Homo sapiens: one gene and its partners. The protein of the gene in region 2 purifies or fractionates together with the protein of the main gene of each other region. This does not show direct contact. Each region holds a gene or a part of one and is shown on either strand. Other genes may lie near its edges.

Evidence for each region.
Region 1: the proteins of CDC5L (region 2) and SF3B1 purify together in Homo sapiens (affinity purification with mass spectrometry; 5 studies listed by BioGRID and IntAct, with this or other methods). This does not show direct contact.
Region 3: the proteins of CDC5L (region 2) and U2AF2 purify together in Homo sapiens (affinity purification with mass spectrometry; 5 studies listed by BioGRID and IntAct, with this or other methods). This does not show direct contact.
Region 4: the proteins of CDC5L (region 2) and SNRPA1 purify together in Homo sapiens (affinity purification with mass spectrometry; 6 studies listed by BioGRID and IntAct, with this or other methods). This does not show direct contact.

The regions. Positions count from the first base shown.
Region 1 is NC_000002.12:197,403,342-197,411,747, forward strand, and holds part of SF3B1 (splicing factor 3B subunit 1), read right to left. Parts: intron 6,667-8,406; coding exon 6,429-6,666; intron 5,241-6,428; coding exon 5,028-5,240; intron 4,779-5,027; coding exon 4,657-4,778; intron 2,132-4,656; coding exon 1,934-2,131; intron 1,837-1,933; coding exon 1,735-1,836; intron 1,514-1,734; exon of another isoform or gene 1,377-1,513; intron 424-1,376; coding exon 244-423; intron 1-243. UniProt on the Homo sapiens protein: Component of the 17S U2 SnRNP complex of the spliceosome, a large ribonucleoprotein complex that removes introns from transcribed pre-mRNAs.
Region 2 is NC_000006.12:44,445,968-44,451,593, forward strand, and holds the end of CDC5L (cell division cycle 5-like protein), read left to right. Parts: intron 1-639; coding exon 640-744; 3' UTR 745-4,458; downstream 4,459-5,626.
Region 3 is NC_000019.10:55,657,659-55,666,064, reverse strand, and holds part of U2AF2 (splicing factor U2AF 65 kDa subunit), read right to left. Parts: intron 7,204-8,406; exon of another isoform or gene 7,084-7,203; intron 6,856-7,083; coding exon 6,720-6,855; intron 5,889-6,719; coding exon 5,844-5,888; intron 5,550-5,843; coding exon 5,446-5,549; intron 5,028-5,445; coding exon 4,876-5,027; intron 4,295-4,875; exon of another isoform or gene 4,235-4,294; intron 3,564-4,234; coding exon 3,447-3,563; intron 2,460-3,446; coding exon 2,321-2,459; intron 1-2,320. UniProt on the Homo sapiens protein: Plays a role in pre-mRNA splicing and 3'-end processing. By recruiting PRPF19 and the PRP19C/Prp19 complex/NTC/Nineteen complex to the RNA polymerase II C-terminal domain (CTD), and thereby pre-mRNA, may couple transcription to splicing.
Region 4 is NC_000015.10:101,285,249-101,293,654, forward strand, and holds part of SNRPA1 (U2 small nuclear ribonucleoprotein A'), read right to left. Parts: intron 7,925-8,406; coding exon 7,777-7,924; intron 6,793-7,776; coding exon 6,714-6,792; intron 2,455-6,713; coding exon 2,408-2,454; intron 1,763-2,407; coding exon 1,660-1,762; intron 1,046-1,659; coding exon 966-1,045; intron 554-965; coding exon 478-553; intron 1-477. UniProt on the Homo sapiens protein: Involved in pre-mRNA splicing as component of the spliceosome. Associated with sn-RNP U2, where it contributes to the binding of stem loop IV of U2 snRNA.

The DNA of each region.
Region 1 (8,406 bases), on a different chromosome or scaffold from region 2:
TCTCATATGTTCTCATCCTAATCTAATTTTAATAAAAGCAAATGAAAAAATTAAATAATATGAACCTCTTACGGCAAAGATGACAAAAACTAACATCTGTACATCTGTATAAAACTGTATTTGTACATGTATGGTGTGTACTTGTGCAAAGGAAAAGGTCTAGGAGAATATGTAAATTTAACATTGATTAACTGAAAAAGTTAAAACTTTAAACTATCAGAAACACTATTAAGGAGAACAAACCTTATGCACATATGGACGAACTAAGTCATCAAGTTTGTACAGTATCCTATCAATAACTTTCACAAGTAAATGACGCTCTTGATCCTCAAGTGTAGGAGACATCAGCAGAGGAAGAATCTGATTAAACAAAGGACCAGCTCCAAATTCACGAGCTTTATCAGTAATCTGACGCAATGCAGCCTGGGAAAAAGAGCAGAGTAATAGGTGTGGTTTCTTTATAATCAAACATTTTGAATGAGCAAATTACTCAAAGAAGATTTTCCATACTTTAATATTTTAGTGTTTACTTTTACACACATTTTACATAGACAGCATGAGTTCATTTCCATCCAAATTACTCTGGAATTTCAATTCCTGTGATAGAAATTTTATGTTAACTCAAAAGAGTAATTTAATAGAACGAACCACAGAGGTATGTACTAAATGCCTTCATTTCCCTGAAGTATCTTCCATTTCCAAGGCACATATAGTGTTAACATAATCCCTCACATAATTTCACTAATTATCTTCAAGCTTTAAGCATATTTTAAAGGCCTTAAGAACAAAAAGGAGAATCTCATTTTTCAGCATTTTTATTAGCTTTTTTAACCAAAGAATTTTGTGCTAACTCCAGCTGGGCACGGTGGCTCACACCTGTAATCCCAACACTTTCGGAGACTGAGGCAGGAGGATCTCTTGAGCCCAGGAGTATTTAAATAATAATAAAAACAAACGGCTGGGCATGGTGGTTCACACCTGTAATCCCAGCACTTTGGGAGACCGAGGCAGGTTAATCATTTGAGGCCAGGAGTTCAAGACCAGCTTGGCCAACATGGTGAAACCCCGTTTCTACTAAAAATACAGAAATTAGCAGGGCGTGGTGGTGCACGCCTGTAGTCCCAGCTACTTGGAAGGCTGAGGCACAATTGCTTGAACCCAAGAGGCGGAGGTTGCAGTGAGCCAAGACTACACCACTGCACTCCAGCCTGGGCAAGAGAGCAAGACCCTGTCTCAAAAATATATATATAATATTAATAATAAAAACAAGCAAAAAAGTTAAATCCTTCACACTACATAAATTTTTTCCCCTCATGCTATGTCCTTGATAAAGATGAAGACAGTAATTATAAATTCCTAAACACAAAAATATAACACTACCAAAAGTTAATTTTTTATGGGGAAGGCTTTCTAAATAACCTTTACCAATTTGGGCTATTTGGGAGAGTAAAGGAAAGACCACACTCCACAGCGGGCTATACCAATAGTTCACTACTATTTTGTGGTCTACATTTCCTGGTGAAAAAATTAAAAACATTTTTAAAAATATAAACATGGCCAGGTGCAGAGCCTCACACCTGTAATCCCAGCACTTTGGGAGGTAGGCCAAAGCAGGAGGATCACTTGAGACCAGCCTGGGCAACATGGCAAAACCCTGTCTCTACAAAAACTACAAATTTTTTTTAATTAAATAAATAAGCAACAAACATGACAATTTAACAAACTGGGACTTACCTTTCTCATTGGTGGTGTTCCATTCTTAATTTTTAAAAGCAACTTCATTATTTTTCTCTCTTTTTGCTCTTCTGGACTAAGTGTTGATTCATCAACATCAACCTATAGTAAAAAGAAAAAAATGTTAAGGGAAGTTGAAATGTTATGATTTATAATTCTGGAACACAATTAATAGTTTATTTCTGCTAGTATCACTTACCAATAGTTTATCAAAGTATTGAATATCATCAGGTTTTAAAAATGGAAGATTTCCAGATGGCTGGTCATTAACACTTTTCATAGTTCGATCTTCAGTTTGCATGTGGAAACCAGTCATACCACCCAAAGGTGTTGGAGTAGCTGTCAGCTTTCGAGCTGGAGTTCGAATAGGAACATAACCAGCTGGAGGAGGAAGTACCTAATAAAAGTTATAAGACAGTTTAGGATTTTCTTAACTTAAAAAACAGCATAATGAACAATATTTGCACTTAAAATATTTTAGTTTATTAGCTAATAAGGTTTTTATTTGCTTGGAGACAACATCTATCTTGCTTTTCTATCTTAATTAGAAACTTAAAATATATACTTCTCATCCACTAACTGATTATATCCGTGGTGTAGGGAACTGAGGAAACACAAGAGAAGAGCTTAGAAAATACTAATCACATTCAAACATGTTGTGGGTCAAAATGTCAAATTATTAAAAATTTGAAAATTATAAAATCTGAGTCAGCAATTCCAAAAAATGCTGTAGTCGAGCAAATAATGTTTCATAAGATTTATATAAAATGGAAATAAGCTCATATGGGGCATAAAACATAAAAAATTATATTTTAGTATTAAAATGTCACATAAATTCTTGCACTACAAAATCTTTTAAGTGTAAAACTCTACAAAAATTAGTTAAATGCATAAAAACTAAAACCAAAATGTTTGCCAAAGCCCTATAAAATACACACCACCTGATCAAACCTTTTGCAAAACGAGTAAAATTTCAAAAAATGCAGGCTGAAAATCACAAAGAAATTTTTTTTTTTTTTTTTAAAGCTGGTAACAGACTTCAAAAAAAAAAAACAACTTCTGGACAGGCCAGGATTACAGCACTTTGGGAGGCTGAGATGGGAGGAACGCTTGAGCCCAGGAGTTTGAGACCAGCCTTGGCAACATGGCAAGACCCCATCTCTATTTTATATAATTTAATATATAGTAAAAGAAAAAAAATACAACTTCTTGGAGAGGTCAATAAACCTATACACGTCTTCTCCAGTGAGCCTAAAATTGTTTTGTCTATTAAAGATTAAATTATGTTAAATTTATATTGATGCTATCTGTACTTTGCACAGATATTTTTTGTTGCTAGTTAACGTCTGCACCAGCACAGACCACTAAGCATTTTGGATAAAGTGGATACTCTAAAGATGTGAGGCCTAGAGAAATCAATGTCAAGTCCACAGGCATCACTTGCCATTAAGGATTTAAAGGTCTACTATATTTTTATATTCACTAGTAAGGACGTTGCTTATTAGTAGGATTCACTAAGGGAGACTTTTCCTCCTAGTGACACTAAGGAAATCAATGACTACGACTGAGAAAGACATGCAGGCAGTCAACAGTAAGTTCTGTCTATCTATACCCACAGTTCTATCTATACCCACAGCATTATGTGGAGGCTACAAAAAGCTTTAAGGCAAAACTTCATGCAAACTTGAAACAAATACTCTAACACAAATAACAGGGGATCAAAAACAAAACAAGGCTGGACACAGTGGCTCATGCCTATAATCCCCAGCAGTGTGGGAGGCCAATGTGGGTACTTTGAGCCTAGGAGTTTGAGACCAGCCTGGCAACACAGTGAGACTCCCGTATCTACAAAAAATAAAAAAATTAGCCAGGTATGGTAGTGCATGCCTGTAGCCCCAGCTACTCAGGAGGCTGAGGCAGGAGGATCACTTGAGCCCAGGAGTCCAAGGCTGCAGTGAGCTATGTCAGCGCCACTGCTCTCCAGTACGGGCAACACAGTGAGACCCTGTCTCTAAAACAAAACAAAACAACAAAAAACATACTCATGAACTGTTAAAAATCAATAGTCATTAACAGAAAAAGCTCTGTAAAGGCCATCAGATGACTTACAAAGTTATCTGGTTCCCCCTGGTTATGATGTCAGCTATACGACCACAGACTATCTTCAGACTAACAAATACTCCCTGAGTACCAGGTACCTAGAAAATTTTATAGTTCAAAATAAATTTTAGGTTGATATGATAAAAAGGCCAGGCACGGTAACTCACGCCTGTAATCCCAGCACTTTGGGAGGCTGAGAGGGACGGATCACTTGAGGTCAGGAGTTCAAGATCAGCCTGGCCAGCATGGCGAAACCCTGTCTCTACTAGAAATACAAAGATGAGCCGGGCATGGTGGTGGACACCTGTAATCCCAGGTACCTGGGAAACTCAGGCAAGAGAATCGCTTAAACCTGGGAGGCGGAGGTTGCAATGAGCCGAAATCACGCCACTGCACTTCAGCCTGGGCAACAGAGTGAGACTCCATCTTTTAAAAAAAAAAAAAAAAAAAAATTCTTTGTGTCCACTGACAATCCATAAACTTAAGTATATAAAATCTTGGTGAAGCACCAAGTAAAATAACCACAATCTCAACGAGCTTATTCCTGGGACTGCTAGAAAACTGAAGCACCAGCAGTTCTCAAAGTATAACCGATAGACCCATACACAAGTCTTTGAGATGTCTTTCAAAAAGTAATAAAAGTTTCATGTTGTTCATTTCTTTTCATCTCTATATGGAACTGAAATATACCTGGAAATAGCTAAGAGAATGGAATGACAATAGTAAATTTGGGCAAAGCCAATGCAAGCTTAATCAATTTTTTTCACTATTTAAAATAAATGTATATCCTAAATACCACCTCATTCAAATTTGATGTACTACCTTATATCCTTCTGGGAACATAGCATCTAATTCCTCATCAGAAAGTGGGCGATTTCTCTCATCAATTTCTCTTTCCCACCGCCAAGCCTGAAGCTGTTCAGGAGTCATACTCATTATGTGACCTACCAAGAAAAGCAAATTTTTATATAATCTATAGTACAAGACTGTATTATTACATACATTGAGATAAAAGACAGTTAAGATCAATCCTATTATTTGCTTTTATATTATAAACGCAAACCAAGACTTAAATTTGTATATCTCCTTATTCTTACTAGAAGTTGACATTAATAGTACACAGAATACCACAAAGGAAAAAATTAAATAATTTATGGAGAAAAAAACAATTATGTCCAATGAGACAGTTCTACCTGGAGTAGGGGTAGCCATGTTCATGGCTGGTGTGCCAATTGGTGTCTTTCCAGGGGTCAGAACTGGAGTGCTTCCACCCATCTGACTAGCTGGTGTTTCATCCCACCGTGATTTTCTTTTACTGGCTCCAGGAGTCGGTGTTTCACCAATAGAATCTCCACCTCGATCTGTTCGAGGAGTCTCAGCCCATCCACTTCCATGCCCAGGAGTATCTTTAAAAAGAAAGAGTGAGTAAAACCACAATTTTAATCACTGTTAAAATAATATTCTTTATTCTCAAACAGTTATACTCAAAACTATCAAGTTCTAAAATAGAATATTCCTAAAATGGTGACCCATTTAAAGTTGTTTGAGACCAGCCTGATCAACATGATGAAACTCTGTCTCTACTAAAAATACAAAAAGTAGCCAGGTGTGGTGGTGGGCGCTTGTAATCCCAGCTACTCAGGAGGCTGAAGCAAAAGAATCACTTGAACTGGGGAGGCAGAGGTTGCAGTCAGCCGAGAGCGCACCACTGCACTCTAGCTTGGGTGACAGAGCAAGACTCCATCTCAACAACAACAACAAAAAAAGTAAATTTGATGTTATGTACATTTTTCCATAATAAAAAACAAAGGGTAAGTCAGGCACAGTGGTTCATGCCTGTAATTCCAACACTTTGGCAGATCACTTGAAACCAGGAGTTCAACACCAGGCTGGGCAATGAAGCAAGACATTGTCTCTACAAAAAATTTAAAAATTAGCCAGGGGCCGGAAGCGGTGGCTCATGCCTGTAATCCCAGCATTTCAGAAGGCCGAGGGGGGCAGATCATCTGAGGTCGGGAGTTCGAGACCCGCCTGACCAGCATAGAGAAACCCCGTCTCTACTAAAAATACAAAATTAGCCGGGCTTGGTGGCGCATGCCTGTAATCCCAGCTACTCAGGAAGGCTGAGGCAGGAGAATCGCCTGAATCCGGGAGGTGGAGGTTGCAGTGAGCTGAGATCGCGCCATTGCATTCCAGTCTGGACAACAAGAGCAAAACTCCATCTCAAAAAAAAAAAATTAGCCAGGCATGGTGGCATGCCCCTATAGTCTCAGCTACTAAGAAGGCTGAGGTGGGAAGATCACTTGAGCCTAGGATGTCAAGGCTACAGTGAGCAAGACCCTATCTCTAAAGAAACACACAAAATCAAAGGTTACAGCCTACTAACTTTACTTTTACCTAAGGTTCTTCCTTAAATCTTAAACCACTTCAAGAAGTGGAAAAAATTAGGCATATGAACTGTTCTATTCTTAATCTGTCCCCCAAAAGCAGCTGGTTATTTATACGTGTCCACCCAGGAATAAACAGAACACATTTCAGTCTGTAAACATATCACTCAACATTTCACCCACACACCCATACTCCACTAGAAGTACCTCTCTCTGTTTTGGGGGTTTCATCCCATCTGTTTTTACGAGCACTGGAAGTTGCGCCTCCATGGCCTGGTGTCGCATGGCCTGGTGTATCACCTCGTCCAGGAGTAGCAGCTCCCGCTGGTGTGTGGCTAGGTGTAGGATCCCATATTTTTGAGCCTGGGGTTGCTCCAGGAGTCTCGCTTCCCTTTGCACGACCTGGTGTCTCATCCCATCTTAAGGAAGGAGTATGCCCAGGGGTCTTAAAAAAGCAAAAAAATTTTATTTCACACACCCACACAGAAATAATTAGAAAATTTCCATAAAATAAAAAACTTTAAACGAAAAATGTTTTAGTTCTATGCACTATAATTAATGAAAAGTTAGAAGACACTACCTCTACTTATAGGAAAAGATACCTACTTTCTAGCAAATGTTTATGATTAAAAACAATGTAAAGTTTCAATCCGAAGCACTGACAAAAGTCCCAGCTTAAAAAAACAAAATATTATCGATATGAATCTTTGATATGCCATTAATAGCTCTGTGACTGGGGGAAATCACTGAGGTTTCTCTATCTAGATCAGTAATCGAAGGCTTTCAGCTCTAATTACATTAGTACTTCTCAAAGTGGGGCTTAGAGACACATATTTAGGGGAGAAGGAATTCGTGTGTTCTAAGAAAATAGTCCTGTTGATGTTTTGTTTAATTGTGTGTGTTTAATTAATATAAACATGCTTTAGATCACCTATGTAATTTTTTTTTTTTTTTTTTTTTTGAGACAGAGTCTCGCTCTGTCACCCAGGCTGGAGTGCCGGGGCATGATCTTGGCTCACAGCAACCTCTGCCTCCCGGGTTCAAGTGATTCTCCAGCCTCAGCCTCCTGAGTAGCTGGGGTTACAGGTGCCTGCCACCACGCCGGGCTAATTTTTGTATTTTTAGTAGAAACAGGGTTTCTCCACGTTGGTCAGGCTGGTCTCGAACTCCTGACCTCGTGATCCACCCACCTTGGCCTCCCAAAGTGCTGGGATTACAGGCGTGAGCCACCGCACCAGGCCCCACCTATGTAATTATAACCAGATACCGTCACATGATTTCAATCTTGAGATCAGTTTGTATGTACAGTTACATGTGTACCAAATAATATTACCCTAGCTGATGCTGGCAAGATTAATGAAAAAAGATGAGAGGTGGATTTTCATTTGTTTTTTGACACAGGGTCTCACTCTGTCGCCCAGGTTGAGTGCAGTGGCACAATCACGGCTCACTGCAGTCTCCACCTACCAAGCTCAAGTGATCCTCCCATGTCAGCCTCCTGAGTAGCTGAGACTACATACAGGCGCACACCACCACACCCAGTTAATTTTTTATTTCTTGGAGAGATAAGAGTCTTACTATGCTGCCCAGGCTGAGAGGTGGGTTTAAGTAACATCAAGGGTTCCACAGTAGTTCAAACAGAGAGTAATAGTTGGACAACTGACTGCATGTAATAGCAAAAGAATCTCCACCAATAAAGATAGTATCATATCAAAGTAGCATAGAGTTGAGTGTAAAGAAAACAAAATTTGTACTTATATACTGCCTCGTAAGTATTCCACAGGATGTGTAATGTACTTTATATATTTGTTTTAAAGTTGGGAGCTCTTGGCCGGGTGCGGTGGCTCACACCCGTAATCCCAGCACTTTGAGAGGCCGAGGCGGGCGGATCACAAGGTCAGGAGATAGAGACCATCCTGGCTAACATGGTGAAACCCCGTCTCTACTAATACAAAAAAAATCAGCCAGGCGTTGTAGCGGGTGCCTGTAGTCCCAGCTACTCGGGAGGCTGAGGCAGGAGAATGGTGTGAACCCGGGAGGCAGAGTTTGCAGTGAGCCGAGATAGCACCACTGCACTCCAGGCTGAGCGACAGAGTGAGACCCCGTCTCAAAAAAAAAAAGAAAAAAAGTTGGGAAAGTTGGGAGCTCTTATAGACACAAGGACTTCATCTACCTTTATGTTTGC
Region 2 (5,626 bases):
TACTGTCAGGCTTTTAAAAATGAGAGCCTAAAGTGTTTGACTTTCTAATCTAGAATTGCCTCTGTGTAGATGGATAGACCAGGCAAGTTGTAGATACAAAGGCCTTCCCTTACTCATTTTCTGTTTCCAATATGTAGATACACTGTGAAATGGAATACTTAGCCCTTGTGATTTGTCCCCTTGAAACTTAATTGCATCCCATTCATGTAGCTCAGTGAGGGGAAACTAAACCAGTATCTTTTTGTTTTATACCTTATGTTGCTGGGAACATAGCTAGTCCTTCCAAACCATCAAATTCCTATGACCAGGTTTGGATTGAATTTATCTCCCAAATGTGCATAATAGCTCCTGTCCAGCTAAAGGGCAGTCAGGGCTTCTTGAAGTGCATTTGTGGGTATTGATAAGACAGTAGTGGTTTGTTTATTTGAAGTAGCAGCAGGATTTCATATGACCAAATCAAAGAATGGCTGTGATACTGGTTTTATAGCAAAAGTATTTGATATGTTTGTTTCTCTTTGAGAAATATTTAACTCTTAAGAATCATGATTTAACTCAGCTGGTTTTTAAGATAATAAAGTACTGTAGATTTTTTTCAGTATAGTTACATCTAAAATAATTACTTAATTTTTTTTCTTTAAGTGTCTAAAAGAAGACGTTCAGCGACAACAAGAAAGAGAAAAGGAACTTCAACATAGATATGCTGATTTGCTGCTGGAGAAAGAGACTTTAAAGTCAAAATTCTGAAGTACAGTTTATATTCTGTCACAGGATTAATTAATTGCCGGTTTTCATACTCTAGAAGGCTGAAACTGATGTTTATCTTCATTGACAAATTTACCCACCATCTGTGGTTTTTCAGTTGTTTATTTTAAATGATATCGATCTTACACATTCTGTGTATAAAGACCTTAACTCCACAGGACGGACATTTTAGAGTTTAAATTATTAAGGCTATCATTCTTTTAGTAATGTCATATTTGCAAACTTTTTTAGTTTTGGCCTTTAATTTAAAAAGCCTAATTTTAAAGTGCTGCCTGTGAGTAACTCTTGAATAAAAACAAAATATAAAAAATTGAGAATGTAGCCTTTTGTTTGAAGTAATTAGATACTTAAGAGTGCCTGCAAACCAGCAGCTATGTACTCTGTGTCATATTTAATGAGTAACTCTTGGGTAATCAAAATGGTGATGCAGTATCTTAAACACTTAAGAGGCAGTTCTTTGTGGCTTTGTTAGTTTCAGCAAAGAGTGGTCATTTCTGTATACACTGACAAGTTAGATTAACTTTTTAGTACCTCAAATTTTTTTTTTGTTAATATCACTTTAAAGAAGGTCTCTTGTCTGCCAGCTACTTAAATAATTTATGGGTCAGGGCTTAAAAGATTTAACTTCCTTGCCCCATTATTTTCTTATAAGTATTTTTTGACAAAGGCATTTTAAAAGTTAATTTCAAGAAGGCCATCAAACTTAAAGCTCTATGTTTAGCCTAAGAAGTCAGTTACATCAGTGTAGAATTTGGGGAATGGATAGAGGTGGAGATATTTAATTTTATATAATTCATATAAATTGATTTAGTTACAGTATCAGTTGGCTACAAGCTCATTATAGACTAGCAATGTTTTGACATCACCAAAAACGTTTGCCCAGTCTTAGAATACTAGGGACTATAGGAAGGGAAGGGATTCATTCATTCATTCGATATTGAATGTATACCCTGTGCCAGAGTCTTAGAGAGAGAACAACAAACAAAATAGGCCTAGTTCTTGTTTAGTAGAGCTTATAGTCTTTTGAGAATGACAGACAATTAAAATCCAAATGTTTATTTGGTGATTCTTATGTGTCAGACACTTAAGTGTTGGGAGATAAGCAGTTATTAAGACAGAGTTCTTGCTCTCATGGAGGTGACATTAGTGGGGAGGAGATACTAAGTATGTCCAGGGAAAGTATCAGACCATGAGTTTTAGATTCTGTGGAGGAAATTAAAGTAGGGTGATTATGAGATAGTGAATGAGTGGCTATTTTAGACTGGACGATCAAAGAGACCTCTTGGAAGGCAGCTATGCTCACCACTATACCACTGCACTGTGCCGCACCGTACCACTATAAGCTGCACGGCCAAAGAGACCTCTTAAAGAAGTAACATTTAAGATAACATGTGATTGACATTTTAGAATGGGCTATCCTTGTGAGATTCAAGGAAAGAACATCCTAGGTGGAGTGAATAGCAAACATAAAGCCTCTTTTGTATGTTTGAGGAACAAAAAGGACAATGCAGCTAGAGTGTCAAGAATGGCATTTCTGTATATAAGACCTCGTTGTATAGAGCCACATAAATAAGGCTATAATAAGGAATTTGGATCTTACTTTAAATATGATAAGAATCGATGAGAAGATCTAAGCAAAGGAATGACATGATCAGATTTGGTTTTAGAAACATCACTATCTCCTTAGTGTGTAAAATCTCACCAGGCTGGAGATAGGGAAGCCAGTCCAATTAGGAGCCTGATGCAGTGATCCAGACAAAAAAATAATAGTGATTCTAACTAGAGTCCAGGTAATAGTAGTGGAGATATGTGGAGAGACATGATAGGTATATACTTAATAGTCTTATCAGACGATAAATTGATATTTTCCTGGTGTGTAGTCACTTAATTCAAATACTTTTTTCAGTAAGTTCTGGGTTTTCTAGGAAAAACTTCAGTATCATCAGTGAATAATGATAGTGTTTCTTCTGATAGTTTTATTTCACTTTTATTGCATGTTTTGTTATCTGAAATGTTTAGGACAATGTTAACAATAATGATGTTAGACATTTTTTTTTCTTATTTTAATGGGAATGTCCATAGTTTTAAGTTTGCTGTTGGGAGTTAGATAGTCTTTATCTGAAAGACAGTGTCTCTCTTTTAGTTTTTAAAGAGTTTGAATTAGAAATGGCTCTGGAACTTTAAACAGTATACCATTTGGGCATCTATTAAAGCATTCATATAATTGTTCTCATTTGATGTTTTGATGAGGTATATTAATAGATTTTCCCACATTAAATCATCTTTGCACTCCTGGAATCAGGTAGATTAATTTTTAAAAGAAATTTTAAAGGATTTATAGTTTATTTGCACTTTTTGTAGACTTGAATTATATGGATTTAAAAGTTGATCTAATATTAATAAAGGCTCACTTTGTTTTCAAAATTTGAAGTAATTCACATACTTATAGCCTAAAAAAATCGGCAGGAATTACAAAATTTCAAAACTGGCACATTGTAAACTGCATATGCATTTGCCAGGTAGTGGTGCCACTTGAAATGGTGAACAGACACACTGTTATCCTTTGTCAGTATCCTGTAAAGCCCAGGATTCTTTACCAGCACCATACAGCGATTTTGGTGACTATTTTAACATTCACACTGAGGCCAGGGGTGGTGAGTCATGCCTGTAATCCTAGCACTTTGGGAGGCCAAGGTGGGAGGATCATTTGAGCTCAGGAGTTCAAGATTAGCCTGGGTAACATAGTGAGACCCTGTCTCTATTAAAAAATAATAATAAAAATAACATTCACATTGGTATTGTTCACTAAGGTATTGGTTGTTAAGGCATTCATTAAGGTATTGTTAAAACTTGTGTTAAGCATGTTAAAGTCTCAGTAACTTTGGGATAGAAATAAAATGTGATAAAAAGCTGAAAGAAACCACCACAAGGGAGAGTCCTTTTTGAAATATTAGAGACATAATGCTGTCTAATAAAAAACGACATCAAAGAAAAACTACACTACAGTGACTGCAGACTTAATGTTGGCCAACCATGCATCCTCCCTAGAAATGCATTTGAATTTGATTTACTAATCTTTTATTTAGGAAATTTACATTTTTACATTAGTGAGATTGGTCTTTTGGGCTATTGTACTTTTTTTTTTTTTTTTTTGAGATGGAGTCTTGCTCTCTCACCCAGGCTGGAGTGCAGTAGTGCAATCTTGGCCCACTGCAACCTCTGCCTCCTGGGCTCGAGTGATTCTCTGCCTCAGCCTTCCAAGTAGCTGGGACTACAGGCATGTGCCACCGCACCTGGCTAATTTTTGTGTTTTTAGTAGAGATGGGGTTTTGCTATGTTGGCCAGGCTGGTCTTGAATTCCTGACCTCAGGTGATCCACCTACCTCGGCCTCCCAAAGTGCTAGAATTACAGGTGTGAGCCACCATGCCCAGCCTGGTTATTGTATTTTGATATTGGGATTTTGCTAGCTCTCTAAAGTAAATAGGATAACTGTATATCTTTTTCTGTGCATTAAGCAGTTATAACATGGGAATGATTTGTTCATGAAAGGTTGAAAGTCTGTACTTACAGAACTTTTGAGTTCACAGTGCTTTCTGGAAATAATTTCTTTATAACTGTCAGTTTCTTTTGTGACTATTATGTTACCTATTTTTAAATTTAAGCAACTTTAAATTAAAAAAATTGTTTTTAAAATATATTCTTCCTTTTATGTTTATTTAGTAAATTTAGGTAATGTATACTTTTTAAGAAATATTTTTATTTTGTTCAAATTTAAACATCTGTTGTTAGCAGAAAATTCTAATAGCAATTTCTTTTCTATTAACTTTGCCATTTCTAAGTTATAGGAAATTTACCTTCTCTTAATTCTACCACTTTTTACTTGACTAGACTTGTTAAGGGTATACATTTTCTGTTCAGAAAACTAGTGTTTTTATTGGCTTATCTATTGTGATTTTGTTTTAAAATATGTTAATTTCTCAATTTAGGCTTATTATTTTGTTTTCTGTAGTTTTTTGACTTTTTGAGACTGATGCTTATTTTTTGCTTGTATACAAATGAATGTGTTGAAGACTTTTGAACTGTCCTTTGAGTTCAAATATGTTCACATCCCAGCCATTTTGATATGTAGTAGTCTTGTTTTCTAAGTAGTATATCATTGTGTTTTAAATTTCTGGTTCAATAATTAAGTTTTTCAAAATATCTGTATGGTTGGCTTAAATTTTTTTTTTTTTTTTTTTTGCTAGTTGTGGGATTTTTACCTTGTGGGAAAAAAATGTGGTTTATGTAGTTTCTGTTTATTGAGGTTTGGGGGCCTAGCATCTTTAAAAAGTGTTCTATGGATGTTATAAATGAAGATTTATTTAGTTTATATAGGACAGAGGTGAATGTGTATTCATTCAACCAATTTATTCAAATTTAATGTTCTTATTGTTGTTATAGATACCCTAGAATAGTGTTTTCTTAAAGTCTCTGATTATAGTTGTTTCTCTCAATTTCATTTGTTTCTCTAGAGCTTTTGCTTTGTATATTTTGATAGTGTTATTTAGTATAGAATACTTGTGTCTGTTACATACAATTCATAAGGAAGACTTCATGGCCTAAAGCTATCCTTTTTGTTTTGTTTATGCCTTTTGCCTGGAATTTTACTTTCTTTATTAGAATTTCTCTTCTTTCTTTGCTTATATTTGCATGATAAATTGTCTATCCTTTTATTTTCAACTTTCATATATAATTTTTAGTTGTCTCTTAAACAGCATATCTTGTTGAATTTTGTATTTCAAACCATTTGGAGAGTCTTTGGCTTTTAATAGGGTCTGTTTTGTTTTTCATGCTAATTAATGACTTTAGTCTTCTGTAATCATG
Region 3 (8,406 bases), on a different chromosome or scaffold from region 2:
TAGATCCATAACCCACGGTTCCTATTCCCCAAGGCCCACCACACGTCCCTACCCAGGAAGGAGGCGCTGCACAGTGAGGCCAGCTGCACCGCCATCCATCTTTACTTACAAAAACAGGCAGTGGCCGGGAGCAGTGGCTCACGCCTATAATCCCAACACTTTGGGAGGCCAAGGCAGGTCACAAAGTCAGGAGTTTGAGACCAGCCTGGCCAACATGGTGAAACCCCATCTCTACTAAAAACACAAAAAATTAGCAGGTGTGGTGGCACATGCCTGTAATCCCAGCTACTCGGGAGGCTGAGGCAGGAGAATCGCTTGAACCTGGGAGGCGGAGGTTGCAGTGAGCCGAGATCACACCACTGCACTCCAGCCTGGGCAACACAGCAAGACTCCGTCTCAAAAAACACAACAAAAAAACAAAAAACAGGCAGTGGGCCAGCGTTGGACTCTCAGTTGTAACCTGCCAATCCCTGTGTCGTAGAACTGCCGTGCATGGAGGGCACTTAGGACAGCGCCAATCCCTGTGTCGTAGAACTGCCGTCCATGGAGGGCACTTAGGACAGCGCCAATCCCTGTGTCGTAGAACTGCCGTCCATGGAGGGCACTTAGGACAGCGCCAATCCCTGTGTCGTAGAACTGCCGTCCATGGAGGGCACTTAGGACAGCGCCAATCCCTGTGTCGTAGAACTGCCGTGCATGGAGGGCACTTAGGACAGCGCCAATCCCTGTGTCGTAGAACTGCCGTCCATGGAGGGCACTTAGGACAGCGCCAATCCCTGTGTCGTAGAACTGCCGTGCATGGAGGGCACTTAGGACAGCGCCTGACACACACTAAGCACCAGCAAGTGGCGGGCCACTCATGGGACTTAAAATGAATGAAAACGCAGTGGATTCACCAGGAAGAGACGTGGGGAAGACATTCTGCAGCTTGATCGGGGAAACGCACCCATACGTAAAAAGTCCATGTCGATTGGGAGCATGTCAACATATATTACAGGCTCCAAAAGGTTAGCTGAATTTACCAAAACCCATGATGGAAAAGCACTGGGCTGAGCGCAGTGGCTCATGCCTGTAATCCCAACACTCTGGGAGACTGAGGTGAGCGGATCACTTGAGGTCAGGCGTCGGAGACCAACCTGACCAACATGGTGAAACCCACCCTCTACTAAAAATACAAAAATTAGCCAGACATGGTGGCAGGTGCCTGTAATCCCAGCTGCTCGGGAGGCTGAAGCAGGAGAATTGCTTGAACCCTAGAGGCGGAGGATGCAGTAAGCCGAGATCGTGCCACTGCATTCCAGCCTGGGTGACAGAGCGAGACTGTCTCAAAACAACAACAACAACAAAAAGAAAAGCACTGGAGGCCAGTGAGGGACCTAGCCCAAGTCCTGCCTGACACAGATGTGCCTCCGTCTGGGGCTCCACATCGCCTGCCCTGAAGAGCTGACTCAGTTCCTAAAGGGCTCCTCGAACAGTGAGTACCCGCCAGCAGAACCCCACCTCCTCCATGTCCCAGGCCTGAGACACAGCCGCACCCTGACAGGGCATCAGACAAGCCCTCCCTCAAATCCCATTCATCAGCTACAAGGGTCAGCCAACTATAGCCTGTGGGCTGACAGGGCCCATCACCTGGTTTTGCACATCCTGCAAGCTTTCTAAAGGGAGACCATTCTGTGGCCTGTGAGAAGCACAGGAAAGCCCAACCTCAGCAGCCACGCGTGTCGAGGTGTGCCGGCACACAGCCAGGCCCACGCACGCAGACACCGTCCGGCTGCTTTCACACACAGTGACATGGTCGCCAACCCCTGGTCTGCTATGTTACCTACCAATTACAGATGATGTTCAACACAGCTATGGGGAATGGCCCAGAACACAAGATTCAAGGCAAACACTAGGAGACAAAAACAAGTGAATACCCAGGTGCCAGACCCCACAGCAGCAGCTTTGCTGCCAACCGTCGACACACAGCAGCCCCGACGGGCACAGACTGAGCCCTCCAAGGTCCCACAGCCGCAACGCAGGCACGAGGTCCAGGCCACAAGCCCCTCGCTTCCCCAGCACCTTTGGTCTGATCCTGGCTCTGCCACGTACAAGCTGTGTGTCCTCAGCAGGTGACAGCTCATTCTCCCGGCCCTAGGCACCTTCTCTACCAGCAGGAGAGCACCCCACTCACAGAGACTTAGGGGAAGCAGGGAAAAGGCACCTATCTTCCACAGTACTTACACAACTTCCTAAGCCACTCCAGCTGGGCTGAAGGGATGGACAGGCCATGGGAACAGGACTGGGGGAGAAAGGGGCCCTTAATGGATCCCCCACTCACCAGGCACATAGACGGAGGGGTTCTCTGACATGCCAGGAAGCGGCTGGTAGTCGTGAGGCCTGCGGATCTTTAGTGACTGGCCCTGGAAGATGATGCCATCAAAGGCCATAGCCTGGGTAGTCTCGTCCACTGAGCGGAACTGAATGAAAGAGAAAGGAGTGGTGAGGGATGGGGGTCAGGGACTAGTACAGCCCCTAGTGTTCCAGGATTGGGATTTCCTCTTTCCTTTCACTCATGTGAACAAATACAACATGCCAGGCCCCAGGCTGGGCACTGGGAGTACAACAGACACGCATGTCCCTGCTGCCAGGAGCTCACACTCGACCATTAAAAACACCAGGCACCCAACACAAACACAGAGGCAAACACACAATTGCAGGCTGTGATGACACGGAAGAGGGACAAAGTGCTGAAAAGGGATGTTACGGGAAAGGTTAGTTGAACGGGGAGATGACAGTACTGGAGTCTTTCTGGTGAGGGGGACATTTCAGCCCATCTCCGGAGCAATGCAACTGCAAGTGGACTGCAGTGAGGCAAAGACAGAGTGAGAGGGACAGAGTGAGAGGGAGTGCTCAGACAGTGAGAGGGAGTGCTCAGAAATCTCTGCAGTAAGCTAACACTGCCCACACCTTCACAATACTTCATGAGAGTTATCAGTCCACCAAGAGTCGAAAATCAAAAACCAAGGCCTTTTCCCGACAGTTGAGAAACACAGACACAGAAGACTAGTTAGGAACATCAGTTAGCTGGGGTAACAGAAGACTAGTTAGGAACATCAGTTAGCTGGTGTAAAGAACTCTAGCCAAGCAGGCAGGAGCATGGTAGGTTCTGGGAAGGTCAGTGTGGCCAGAGTGCAGAGAGGACTGGGCCGGAATGGTCTGGAAAAGGCCAAAGAGGTCTACAGAGGCCAAACAGGCCTCTCAGGTCACACAGAAAGCAAATGGAAGGCAGAAAGTAGGATCAGATCTGTAATGCTATAACAGGGCTCACTTCAGCGACCGGGTGGAGAAGAGGCTGCAGAGGGCCTGGTGGAAACAGCACAAGGCAGCTCCACACAACATCAGCCTAAGGGCTGGGCCCTCACATCACACACGTTTCCTGGACCTCACTCACTCCCCCAGCTCACCTCCAAAAAGGCAAAATTCTTGTCCTGGTTAATCTGCACAGCCAACACTGGGTTGCCAGGGGCCTGGGTCAGCCCCCCCAGGCGCATCTGGGCGTTGAAGAAATCCATCATGGCCTCCTGCAGAGGGAATAGGAGACAAGGGGGGGGGCGGGGGAAGGGAGGTGGAGAGAGGAGGGGAAGGGTGAGAGAGGGAGACACAGAGGGGTTTGGGGGTAAGGGGAGAGGGATGAGGGGAGGGAGGAGGGGGGGAAGGAACAGTGGAATATGGGTGGGGGTGTAGAAGTCAATAGTAAGAACAGAAGCAAGAGAGAAAATGGGGAGGAAGCAGTAGCAAGAGACGGCCAAGGGCAGGCGATGGACAGGCGTTGGGGGACAGCCACAGGGGCCCCAAAAAATCAGGGGAAAGGAGAAGATTGTTCAAGAAAAGGCAGAGGGCATGATGACAACACAAAATGAAGAAAAACACGAAACACAAGAGATGAAGAGACAGAGCACACAGGAAGGGCCACCCAGTGGAGACAGACAGAAAAGTGGCAGGAAAGTAGAAAGGAAGTGGCAGGCAGGGGCAGAGACGAGCAAAGGACAGAAAGGGAGAGCAGGACAGAGACGAGCGAGGAGGAGGAAGTCAAGAGTGCAGGGGCAGGAGAGGAGGAGTGTAGGGAGGAGGGGCAGGGACGGGAGGGGAGGAGAAAAGAGTGATGTGGAGGAATCTGGCCCTGGAGTCCGGGGGCTGGTTTATCAAATGTAGCAAAGTGCAGGTTGAGAAAGTCAGAATGGACCTTACTTGCCTTCGACGATGGTAGCAAACTTTTTGTTGCTACGAGGGATCTCAGCCCCACAATATTTCACTTTAAAGAGAAATGGAAACAACTCTTTGATCTCGGGATTCTCAGGGGGTGCCACAGGAAGGGGTTGGGGAGAGGGGAGAGGGAAAAGGAGTGGTGGGGAAGGGGGAGGTCAGGGGCGATCAAAAATAAAAGAACAGCGACCATGGGAGGGACGTGGGGGAGAGGATAGGGGACAGGCGGCAGAGAACGAGAGGCGTGTCAGAAAAAAACTGAGGGGCAGCGTGCGTCTGTGTGTGTGTGTGTGTGTGTGTGTGTGTGTGTGTGTGTGTGTCCAAGTCTCCCTCTCTGTCTCTCTCCGACACGTAGGTACAACACGTGGGTACATTATGTGTGTGCTTGATCCCTGGGTTGCTGGAGGAGGTTGGGGGGAGGGGAGACGGGAGAGGGGAAGAGGAGGGAGGGAGGGCCACCCCCAGCCCGGCCCCTGGCTGGCTCAACTCCATCGGTCCGTCTGGGAGGGGGCCGGGGGGTCTTGCAGGAGCAGAGTCTGACCCGTGCAGGTTGGGGAAAGGGAATGGAGGGAAGGGGAGGAACGGGGTAGAGGGACAAGGGAGAGGGTAGGGGGCAGGGGAGGGCAGTACCTCAGTGATGCCAAAGGGGATGTTGCCCACGTAGAGGCGCCGGGCTTGTCTGGTCATCTGGCTCCCGACCACGGGCACCGGCGTTGGGGTCACAGCCAGACCGTCAGGGGTCATGGTGGGGAGAAGAGCAGTGGCTGGAATCTGACCCGCAGCTTCAAAGGGAATAAAAGCCGGATAAAACCCCATCAGGGGAATGCTCAGTGACCACCCCTCACCACACACTGGGAGTTCCCCTCCTCAGCAGAAAGCTCCTACAGGCTCTCGGTCTTAGCACCTTCCAGAACCCTCTTTCCACCCTCGGGGCCCCCACCCAGTAACTGCTGCTCCTCAGAAGCCTCACTTCCTAATGGCGTCCAGATGGAGGCCTCATTCCCCTGTCAACCACGGGTGTCTCTGGTCATTTCCTCCTCTAGGGAGGCTTCAAAAGCGCAGAGACCAGAACCCCCAGGGGTGTGCAACCCTCTACCTGTGTCTTTGACCCCCTCCAAGCACACACGCAGGGGAATGACTGACGGAGAATCCCAACCCCTGTACCCTCCCGCTCTGGGAGCAGCCTGGCCAGGGGCCTACCTTGCATGGCCTTGTACTGCATTGGGGTGATGTGCTCAAAGCCTGGGGGTGGCACGTCCCAGTATTTACGGACCTTCTTCTTCTTCTCGTGGCGGGGGGAACGACTGGGGGAGGTGGGAGGGGAGAGCGGGGCAGGGCAACCTCAGTCTGACCAACAGTGGGCCTGCGAGCCCCCTCCCAGGCACCCTTTCACCCTCCCCGCAACCATGTAAGCTCCACTCTCTCCAGGGAAGGAGAGGGTCTGGGGCAGGGCCTGGGAAAGGGGTGCTGGTTTCAAGGTAAGTGGACTCTTCCCAGTGCTTGGGCCAGGGCTGGAAATGGGCGGGACAGGGTGCACGGGCGTGAGGAAGGTGAAGGGAGTGGACATCAGGGAGGAAGGGGCAGGAAGAGAAGCTCACATCAGTCCACCGTGCTCCTCTTTAGCGCCTCTGGTCAAAGGTTTGCTGGGGGGTGGGAGGGAAAGGTATGGGGAGGGGTGACTGGGGACCCTCGTCTTCCCCACATGCCACACCCCCCCAAGGGCACTGAGCCCCAGGGTGGGAGCAGGGCCGAGGTCAACAAGCAGCAAGCAGGCCACCCTCGGCCCTGCCATTTCCCCCCAAACACTCCCACCCCCAGGAAAGAGGAAGTGAGGAAAGGAGAAAGGGGCCAGGGGCCAGGAAGGACCAGTCTCTAGCTGGAGAAACTGAGCCGGGAGGAGGCAGGAGGACTTCCGCCTATCCTGCCCTTCCTCACCTAAGGAGGCAGAGAACAGAAAGGGGAGCCTAGAAGGGAAGAGGCGGTGGAAACCGACACCCCTGGGCCAAAAAGTCAGCCCAGGCTGTGGATACTGCCTCGGTCCCAAGAGCTCCCTTCTCCTGGGAGGCAGGGAAGAAAGAAACTGGAGGCAGAGACCAACCCCCTCGAAGAGAGTCCCACAGAGAGCCACAGAGAGTCGAAAAGAAGGAACAGGCCCTCAGAGTCAGAGACAGAGAACAACCCCTTGTGAAGGAAAACACAGAATCAATTCCCAGGCTCCAGATAAAGAGCCTATTGCCCCCAGCAACCCACCAGCAACCACCAAGACAGAAAATGAAAGAAACCCCAGAAACGGGGGAAAAAATCGGAATCCAAGACAGACCAAGCAGTAGATCCCTCCCCCAGATCCACACAAAGAACGAACGAGCCACACAGGGCCCGGACCCAGACACAGACACACACAGGCCACCCACAGGCCGGCCAACACCGACCCCCCGACTCCCAGGCTGGCCCAGGGGATCCCTGAGCCCTAGTACCTGCGTCGTCGCCTGTCCCGGGAGGCGCTCCGCTGGTCCCGGTTGCGCCGGTCGCGGCTCCGGCTCCGGCGTTTGCGGTCCCGGCTCCGAGAGCGGCTGTGGCTGCGCTTCCGATGCCGGTTCTCCTTGTCCCGCTCTGGGCAAGGGTGAGAGGAGGGGCACGGGATAAGCGGAGTAAGGATGCGGGCCCAGCCCACCCTGCGCGCTGGTGGCTATGTCCCAAGCCCCAGGGAGGCCACCCCCAAAGGGAAGGGATTCAATGGAGGAAGGGAATTAACAGGCCTCCTGGGTCCACAAGCGAGTCCAGGGACCATGAGGGGACCAGGGGGACGGGGCCTGGAAATGCCCCCGGGGTGTAAGATACCTGAGGATGCTCAGGAGGAGCTGGGGAGCCAGAGAAGACAGAGGAGGCTGGCTCCTGGTCCCCCTCGAGGGCTGAGGGGCCTGACCCCAGGGTCGTCCCTGAGAGGGGCAGGGCTAGAGGCTGGGGAATCAAGAGACCCAATGATGTTTTCCTGAAGGGACCCAGCGACCCCTCAGGAAAGACCTCTGCAACTAGCTGGCACCCACAGCCCCACCATCAGGACTAGGGGTCAGGTGCCAGGCAGGATCTGATATCCCCAGGAAGCAGGGAAACTCAACCCATCCCTTCCCAAGCCGGTGAATAATGCAGAAGCAAGCACCCTTCCCAGGGGAAGAGAAGGGCCTCGGAGAATCTGCAGACTGAAGGGGAAAGAGGCCCTCCTCTCCTTCAGCAGGTCAGGGGAGGAGCTTGCCCCATCCAGACTTGAATCCCAAACCACTTGAATCTCTCAGCCTCACTCCCTTCAAAGCCAAGTACTGAAGAGACTGTAAAGGCGTGAGTAGGGGCGGGTATCTCTGCCAGCCTCCAGCAGGCTCCCTCAACCCTCTATTTGCCTGAGGTAGCCACTAGGAACGGAGCCTCACTGGCAAAACCACAGAAACCTCTGCTCTCACCAGACCCTTCAACCCCTGAAGAGAGACCGGCCCTTCAAGATGGAGGATAAACCATGAGCATGGGGGGGCGGGGGGGTTCATGAGCACCGCCACACCATTTCCTTAATTCAAAGACACCCAGATTTCTCAGCTAGCCATGAAGCACACACACAAAACAGATGCACACGTTAAGGTGCTTATATATGTTAACACGCATCTCCTGGAGTGATCATCCCTGGGGACAAGAGGAGGAAAGGGCACTGAGGGAGGATGTTAAACTTCAGCCTCACCCACAGTGTTTTGTCTCACGTTTTTGCGATGCAATGTGAATGTCTGGAAAAGCATCACAATTCCAAAACCACCAACACTCAGAAAAATATGCACCCAGCAGGGAAAAAAACAGCAACAAATATTGAGATGCTTCCTACAACCGGAATCTGTACTAAATTGTTTTGTTTGTTCTTAATCCTCACTACTGCTTCGGAAAAACACTGCTGGGGGCTGACATAATGGGTAAGGAAACTAAGGTATAGAGAGATCACAATTACCAAGGTCAAACAGCTAGGAAATGGTGACACCAGAATTTAAACACTCTGACATCAGTGAGTTAAGCACGAGGCCATACTCTCGAATGTGGATCAGGCAGAACACTCAGGTCTGGCTAGAACCATTAATGACAATATAATTGTCCCCTTGAAGGCCAAAAACCCCAAAATCAAAAACTGAAATT
Region 4 (8,406 bases), on a different chromosome or scaffold from region 2:
CTAAAATTGGTGAAGAGATGCAGGCCTTCTTATAAATAATCACTCCACATGTTCTAAAATCGTAGCTAAGTGAAGTAACTATTTGCAATTATGTTACTGAATAATTTAAGGAGGCAATATTATAAAACGAGGGTCCCTACTGATCAGTCAAAAGGATTTGCCAGACAGCAAATCTTCGAAAGTAAAAATTAAGGCAAACACTGAGACAGCATACCAAGGTAAGTAACTGTTCGAAGTGATAAATGCACCTTGGAAAATGAGAAAGACAAAGCTGCCTCCACATTAATTAGCTTGTGTAATTTCAAGTCTGATCAAATAATAACTTTATGCTAGTTTTTCCTTAAACAGAAATATTGCTGTATGCTAATAACTGTGGGAAAATGAAATCTGCAATGTTCGGAACATGTTTATTATCCAGCTTTGTGTTCTGAACCCATCTTAGCTCATTCCAGTCCAAGAATCCTAACACATGATTACCTTGATTGCTTCTACATCCCCTGGAGATGGCCCACCTTTCTTTTTGTCAGTTGGCAAACCAGCACCTGGATTAAAACTTAAGAGGGGGAAGAACATAACTGTTAGACCTAGACCAACAGAAGTTGCTTCTCTTTTACTTTCAAAAGCTTTTGAAAGTAATTCAACCAGTGTAGTATCTTATCTTTGTTAACAAACTGATACAAGAACTCTCTCCTTCAGAAACACCATCCAGTTCATCTTCCTATATAGAAAATAGGATGTACATGGTATCACATGAAGACTGACTACTGAAATATTTGCTCTGCTAAGCTGGTAGAAATTTCTTGTGATGTGTGGACCATTGATGTACATGGACTATAAGCACTCAAATTTAATACCACATTAATATGTCAGAGTTTTTGGTTAATTTTGTAGGAGACGAACTGCCAGACAGATCAGATCATGTTTCTGAAGGTGAAGTAGAGTTAAGTTGGATATCCGTGTCTTACGTTTTGCTTCTCCTGGCAATATCCTTTGCAAGCTGTGCACCCCGTTTGCCCTTGAACATTTTCTCTGCTTCCTGACGCTCCTACAGCGACACCACACACAGAGTTAATGGAAATAGGAATACCACATGCATTTAGATGCATTCCTCAGAAGACATGGAAGCGAACTCTCCTACAGTACTCCGGGCTGGTGAAAATACCAAAAAGCAATTTCAAATTAAGAGAAGACACAGTGGTCTTCTTTCTTTGGTAGAGCTCCCTGAAGAAAGTTCATTCTCCTAGCTCCAAGGAGGGGATCCCAGGGAACTAAGAAGGCAATTAAATGAATAATAAAATAATGAATTCCTAATAAAGGGAAAAATCATCCTAACACACGGAGCTGCACGAAAGTAGGTTACATTAAGTTCTCCGCTGGGAACGTATCTAGGCAGACAATCCACTGTTAAGACTGCTCACCGTGGCCTCAGCACTTTGCGAACTTCGGAATAGCCAGCATTACATAAGAGAGCTCCAACTTAAAAGTTCTATCATAAACTCTGCTATTAGAAAAAAATGTGATGTAACATTTTCCCTCCCACTTTTATTACAAACTAATGGTAAAATTTACTCATTTAGACAATTTTAATAATCAGTAACAAAAATATAAAGAAAAACACACAACTCTATAATGGCTCACAAGCAACAGATTACTACTTACTTTTAGTTTCACTTTCTGGAAATCCAGTACTCTGACTTGCGGAACTTTATAAATCACATACAATCTGTAATGCTTCTTATTGGTTACCGGATTTCTTAGGATACTACAAGAAAAGGAATGACACAATGGCAAACTTGTTCATGGCACAGCACTCAAGAGGTCTGTTTGAATAGTCTAAGGAACCTATAAATCAAGGGAACATTCACATTCTTCACATTGCAACATTGTAACAATTTAACATTAAGGAAATATATTCAATCTTTCTTTGTAAAAGGCACTTTTTTTTTAAATTATACTTTTAAGTTCTAGGGTACATGTGCACAACTTGCAGGTTTGTTACATATGTATACATGTGCCATGTTGGTGGGCTGCACCCATTAACTTGTCATTTACATTAGGTATATCTCCTAATGCTTTCCCTCCCCCCTTTCCCCACCCCACAACAGGCCCCGGTGTGTGATGTTCCCCTTCCTGTGTCCAAGTGTTCTCATTGTTCAATTCTCACCTACGAGTGAGAACATGGGGTGTTTGGTTTTTTGTCCTTGCGATAGTTTGCTGAGAATGATGGTTTCCAGCTTCATCCATGTCCCTACAGAGGACATGAACTCATCCTTTTTTATGGCTGCATAGTATTCCATGGTGCATATGTGCCACATTTTTTAATTATCTGATTACATTAAGGTCAAGGCTGGTAAAAGTAATGTTATTTTAAAGGGCTTCATTTTGTCACAATATGTAATTCCCATACCTTAGGTAAGTCAGCGATTTGAGAGATGCCAGAGGGTCCAGATCACCCTGTCAAGCAATAGCCACAGGTAAGAACGCGAATACCACACGCTATTTTGAGATTCTGAAATGGAGAGTGCTTTTGAAGCAAGTTGTCTTTTCATTATTTACTGAATTTTTACTCTCTAGCAACAAGCCCAATACTAGCACATCACAAATGTTTAAATAATTTCTACCGATGAATACATGGGAGCTTCTTAAAATCTTGGCATTAACAGCTTCTGTCTCAATAGCAGGAGATAAGAAATTGCTTTCCTACAGGAATCTCAAAGTGGCTGCTGAGCCATGATTTGGAAAAGAAAACAATGGCAAAGCTGATGGGACTCTGGAGCAACCTATTCACACTGGGAACTGCAAGCCAGAATCTTGGTGTAAGTGGGCTTTCCTGCTAGCGCCAGCTTCAGCGTCTAAGAACAACAAAGGTATACTGTCTTTTGAAAGAAGGTACATTTATCCTAGCTGCCCCTGAAAATCTCTTTAAATAAAATTTGCAGGGACAAGGAATAGTATAGCTTAAAAATGATCGAATTAATGGAAAGAAGGCAGGGTGATTTTTTTTTTTTTTTTTTTTGAGACGGAGTCTCGCTCTGTTGCCCAGGCTGGAGTACAGTGGCGTGATCTTGGCTCACTGCAAGCTCCGCCTCCCGAATTCATGCCATTCTCCTGCCTCAGCCTCCCAAGTAGCTGGGACTACAGGCGCCCACCACCATGCCCGGCTAATTTTTTTTGCATTTTTAGTAGAGACGGGGTTTCACTGTATTAGCCACGATGGTCTCGATCTCCTGACCTCGTGATCTGCCTGCCTCGGCCTCCCAAAGAGCTGGGATTACAGGCGTGAGCCACCACGCCCAGTGGGCAGGGTGAATTTTTAATCTTCTCCAATTGTTCCATAAAACATAGTGCAATAAGGATAGCAAAAAAACAAAAACCTATGGTTACCAGCTACAACCAAGCTAGATGGCAAGGCATTCTGCAGTAACTCTAAAATAGGAACAAGTAGAGACAACCCATGTTGAGAGCAACAAGGCTTGCAGGGTGACGGCCTTTGTACAGGAAGAAGCAGAGGGGAGGCGAGGAGCCGTCTTACAAACTGGAGAACTCCAGTGACTGAGAAAAGCAGGCCCAAGACCAGCATGTTCCAATAATGACTACAGGGGTCTGTGATAAGGGCTGCAGGGGCAAGAGCAATTTGGGCCCTCACTCTTAATAGAAATCATGTCCCAACACGGCCCTGCCCTGAAGAGAAACTGCTGGAACAGGCGCAAATTGGGTAGATGGTGGGGAAGGGGTGTGTGTGTGCAAGAGGCACAATGAGAAAAAAAAGTACAGATAAAAACAGGGAGAGCAGAGCCAGAAATTCTCAAAAAGCAAGCTGCCATCTTCAAATATGTCACAAAAACCACCAGAGGGAGCTCTAGAGCTTGATACTGTTTTACCCCCACTGAAGATGATCCAAAAAGGAATAAAGAACAAAGTGGTAACATTTGTTACATACACAGTGTAAAACGTAATGGCGATGTAGTGATGGGCTTCAAAAAAGAATAAATATGTAACAACCCGAAGGCTGCTGAAATGTTGAAGGTCACTGTACTGTATTGTTTAGCAGGGTAAAGGTGTCAAAGTTTAAAATTAAATGTTGAAGGTCATGGTACAGTGATCTTAACATTTAATTTTAAACTTTTATAAATATGTGTGTTTTAATTCCTACGATGCTAACTCAAGATTGAAAGAGAGTAATTTCTAAACCATCAGAAGAAAAAATGGAATGACAGAAGGAGAGCATCTACAATAAAGGAGAGAAAACGGATTGAAGAACGGGTGGGACAGACAGGAAGCCCCAGAACAGAGAGAAGACAAACTGGAACACACCAGTAATTACATTAAATGTAAACAGACTAAATATAAATAATTCACTTAAAAGAGCTTTCAGACTGGATTGTAAAAAATTCCAACCAGAGCTGGGCGCGGTGACTCACGCCTATAATCCCAGCACTTTGGGAGGCCAAGGCGGGTGGATCACAAGGTCAGGAGTTCGAGACCAGCCTGACCAACATGGTGAAACTTCGTCTCTACTAAAAAAAAAAAAAATACAAAAATTAGCCAGATGTGATGGCGCCCACCTGTAATCCCAGCTACTCGGGAGGCTGAGGCAGCAGGAGAATCACTTGAACCCAGGAGGCAGAGGTTGCAGTGAGCCGAGATCTCGCCACTGCACTCCAGCCACTCCATCTCAAAAAAAAAAAAAAAAAATTCAACCATACAGTTTTTAAGAGAGAAATCTAAACTACAAGAGGTACAGACAAGCTGAAAGTAAATTTTGGATGGAAAACGATTTATCATGCATATAACTAACCAAAACAAAGATTGTTTCGAGGTAAAAGAAACCTCAAGGTAAACAGCATTAATAGAGATCGAGGGTCACAACATAATAAAAAGTTTCCGTTCACCAGAAAGATATGAATAATTTAAAATTTGTATGTATCAAATAAGGCAACTTCAAAATATACAAAACTAAAATCGACAGAACTTCAGGGATAGTCAAATCCACTACCATGCTGTGAGATTCTAACATACCTCTCTCAATAACTGATAAGCCCAGTAGTCTTCATCTTTGCAAAGAGCTTTAAATACAACTCTAATTTCTCTAACAGCACCTATCATGAGACACATTGCCTATAAATATGTATTTCGGGTTGAATACTTCACACACTTCAGAAAGGACATGGCCATGGACCAGTGCTGTCTTATGTTTGTAGTCAAGCATCTCCTTGAGAATCTGAAGGATGCTATGGACCTTGTCCACAAGGAAAGGAACACAGTTCATTCTCAACAATCAGGAAAATACGGGAGGAAGGTTAAGTCACAAAATTAAGTTATACGATTTTTTTTTTTTTTTGAGATGAGGTCTTGCACTATTGCCCAGACTGGAGTACAGAGACATGATCATGTCTCACTGCAGCCTCGACTGATGGCTAGGGCTCAAGTGATCCTCCCACTTTAGCCACTGGAATACCTGGGACCACAGATGCACGCTACCACTTTTGGCATTTTTTTTTTTTTTTTTTTTGAGACGGAGTCTCTTTCTTTGCCCAGGCTGGAGTGCAGTGGCATGATCTCAGCTCATTGCAACCTCTGCCTCCTGGGTTCAAGCAATCCTCCTGTCTCAGCCTCCCAAGAAGCTGGGATTACAGGAACCCACCACCACGCCCGGCTAATTTTTGTATTTTTAGTAGAGACGGGGTTTCACCATATTGCCCAGGCTGGTCTTGAACTCCTGACCTCGTGATCCACCCGCCTCGGCCTCCCAAAGTGCTGGGATTACAGGCATGAGCCACTGCACCCGGCTTTTCTAAAAAAATTACTTATAGAGAGAGACAAGGTCTCACTATGTTGCCCAGGCTGGTCTAGAACTCCTGGGCTCAAGTGATCCTCCCACCTTGGCTTCCCAAAGTGCTTGGATTACAGGCATGAGCTATGGCACCTGGCCTACAATATAAATTTAAGCATCCAGTGTTTAAGTGAAGAATTTAGGTTACAAAACAATACACAGTATCTCAATTATGTTAAAAATTGGATACACAGAACAGAAATTTAAAAAGCATGAAAACAGTTCCAAGTGGATTGTTCATCTAACGTGAAGAGTAAAACAAGGTTTCTAGACTGGAACTGTTCAGCAAGATTTAATGCATATCAGATATGTAATCTAAAATTTTCTAGTAGCCATGTTAAAATAGGTGAAACTAATTTTAATAATATGCCATTTAACTTATTATCCAAAACGTTATCATTTCAACATCGATATAAAAAAATTACTGAGATAGTTTACTTTTTTTTTTTTTTGCACTTAAGTCTTTGAAATCCAGTGTGTATTTTATAGTTCTAGCACATCTCAATTATAAGTAGCCACCTGTAGTTACTGGTACTATATTGAACACTGCAATTGTAGAAAACAACATAGGAGTTTATAACCCTGGAATAGGGGAAATTTAAACATCAAAAGGGCTACAATAAAGAAGAAGATTGATTCATTGGACTGCACCTAAATTAGGAACTTCTCTAACAAGACATCCTAAGTCAAAAGTCAAGTAAAAGTAGGAAAATATTTGCAACATACGGCTGCAGAACCCAAAAGGCCCAGATCCTGAATTAAGAAAAAGACAAGAAAGAGGATACTGAGATCATTTTCTAGATTTTGTAAATTTTCTGTAGGAAGCACATAGTACCTTTAACCCCACCCACCAAATACATTTTCCTTCTGTGCAACTTACCAGTTCCACGAGACTATTATTGGTGAGAATGAGTTCTGTCAGACAGGGCAGAGCCTGATCAAGTCCCTCACCTATACGGCTAAAATAAAAATAGAGTCTTAGTAAAAGTGAAAATTAAATAAGCTAACAATTTTATCTACCTCCTTGCTCAGAGGATCACAGAGAGACACTTAGAGATCCTTCTTCCAACACCCTGATAAAGAGGAAACAAAGCAAAAAGAACCCTTTTCTGAGGCCACAGGGTCAGCAACAGAAGTGGGATTTTAGACACTGCCTGGGGCTAATTCCACTGTCATACCATCTAGTGGAACCTGAGAAAAGGTGCAACTCCTGGGTGGCACAAACTACTTAACTCACTTCATGATTTTTTGTGCAGGCAGCACAGAAATACAAATAATTCTGGATTCCCAGCTCAGGTACAAGACACAACAACTATACTATAGGGGAATGGTTAACCTATGAGAAATATTTCTATCTGAAGGAAATCCCACTCACCACCCAGTACCTTTAAAGACATTATCTATACACCAAGTGCTTTTTTTCCAATAAAGTTTACACAGAGCTGATGAAGGCAGGGTCAAAAAAGATCTCAATTTCAATAAGTAACAGTCTAGAAATTAGTTGCAGTTAAAAAAAAAAAAAAGCAGAGACGCTCAGTCAAAAGTATAATTGTTACCTTTATATATCCTTTTACTATGACCCCTTTGATAATTGTTTTAGAAGCCAAAATGTATACAAAGCAACATGTTTTTATTTAGAAACTTAACCATGAAAATAAAAATACATGATTTCTGAACAGATACAAGTAAGACTAGACTAATGCCAGGTTAATCTCTGGATCTCTATAGGAAAAGTGAAGTTCATTTCTCATTTTAAGAAAAAACATGTATTGAATGTGGCTTCCATTATGGAAAAAATATTTTTTCAAAATATAAATAAAAAAGAAAAAGAAAAAGAAAAAGAAACATGTAGGTTTAACCAGTAGCACGTGCTACAACTTCTTCAGGAAACACTGCAACATTTACTCTAGGGGAAAAAATTACTTTCCCCTACAGACACGTACCATATTCTGTTGTTGTTCACTAACAATGTTTTCAGTCTTCTCAACAAAGGAAAACCATCCAGTTTCCTGATCTCATTGTCAGAAAAATCAATAGCATCAAACTGGTCTAACGTAGCACCTAGATTTTCAATGACGGGAATTTTATACCCTATAAAATGGAGGAAAAAAACACAAGAGGTATTAATATAACTAAACAGTTGCCCCTTAAAGCATTAGCTGTATTTCATAGTATCTGACTCCAGGCTTTGATTTATTCAGGAAGTATTACCTAGCACCTATGTCGGGTCACGCATGACTTGCCGCTGTTTAAGATACTAGAGAGAAAACGCTGAACGAGTCTCAAGTCCCCAGTGCCATGAAGCTTAGAATCTGATGACAACAAGGACAAGGACAATAACAATGGCTGATATAGGCAGCTAACATTTATAAGAACATTTACAAGGTGCCTCACACTGTCCTAAGTCGTTTGGGCTAGTTAAGCGGAATCGGCACAACAGGAGTTTACACTTGGAGCTGCTTAGTCTCAGTGCCCAAACGGCGTTCAAACATTGTGGACGACAGTTCTCCACTCTTGCATCTCCACAGGCCAGATTCTTAGAACCCATCAGAACAGCCTCAACATATCACGAC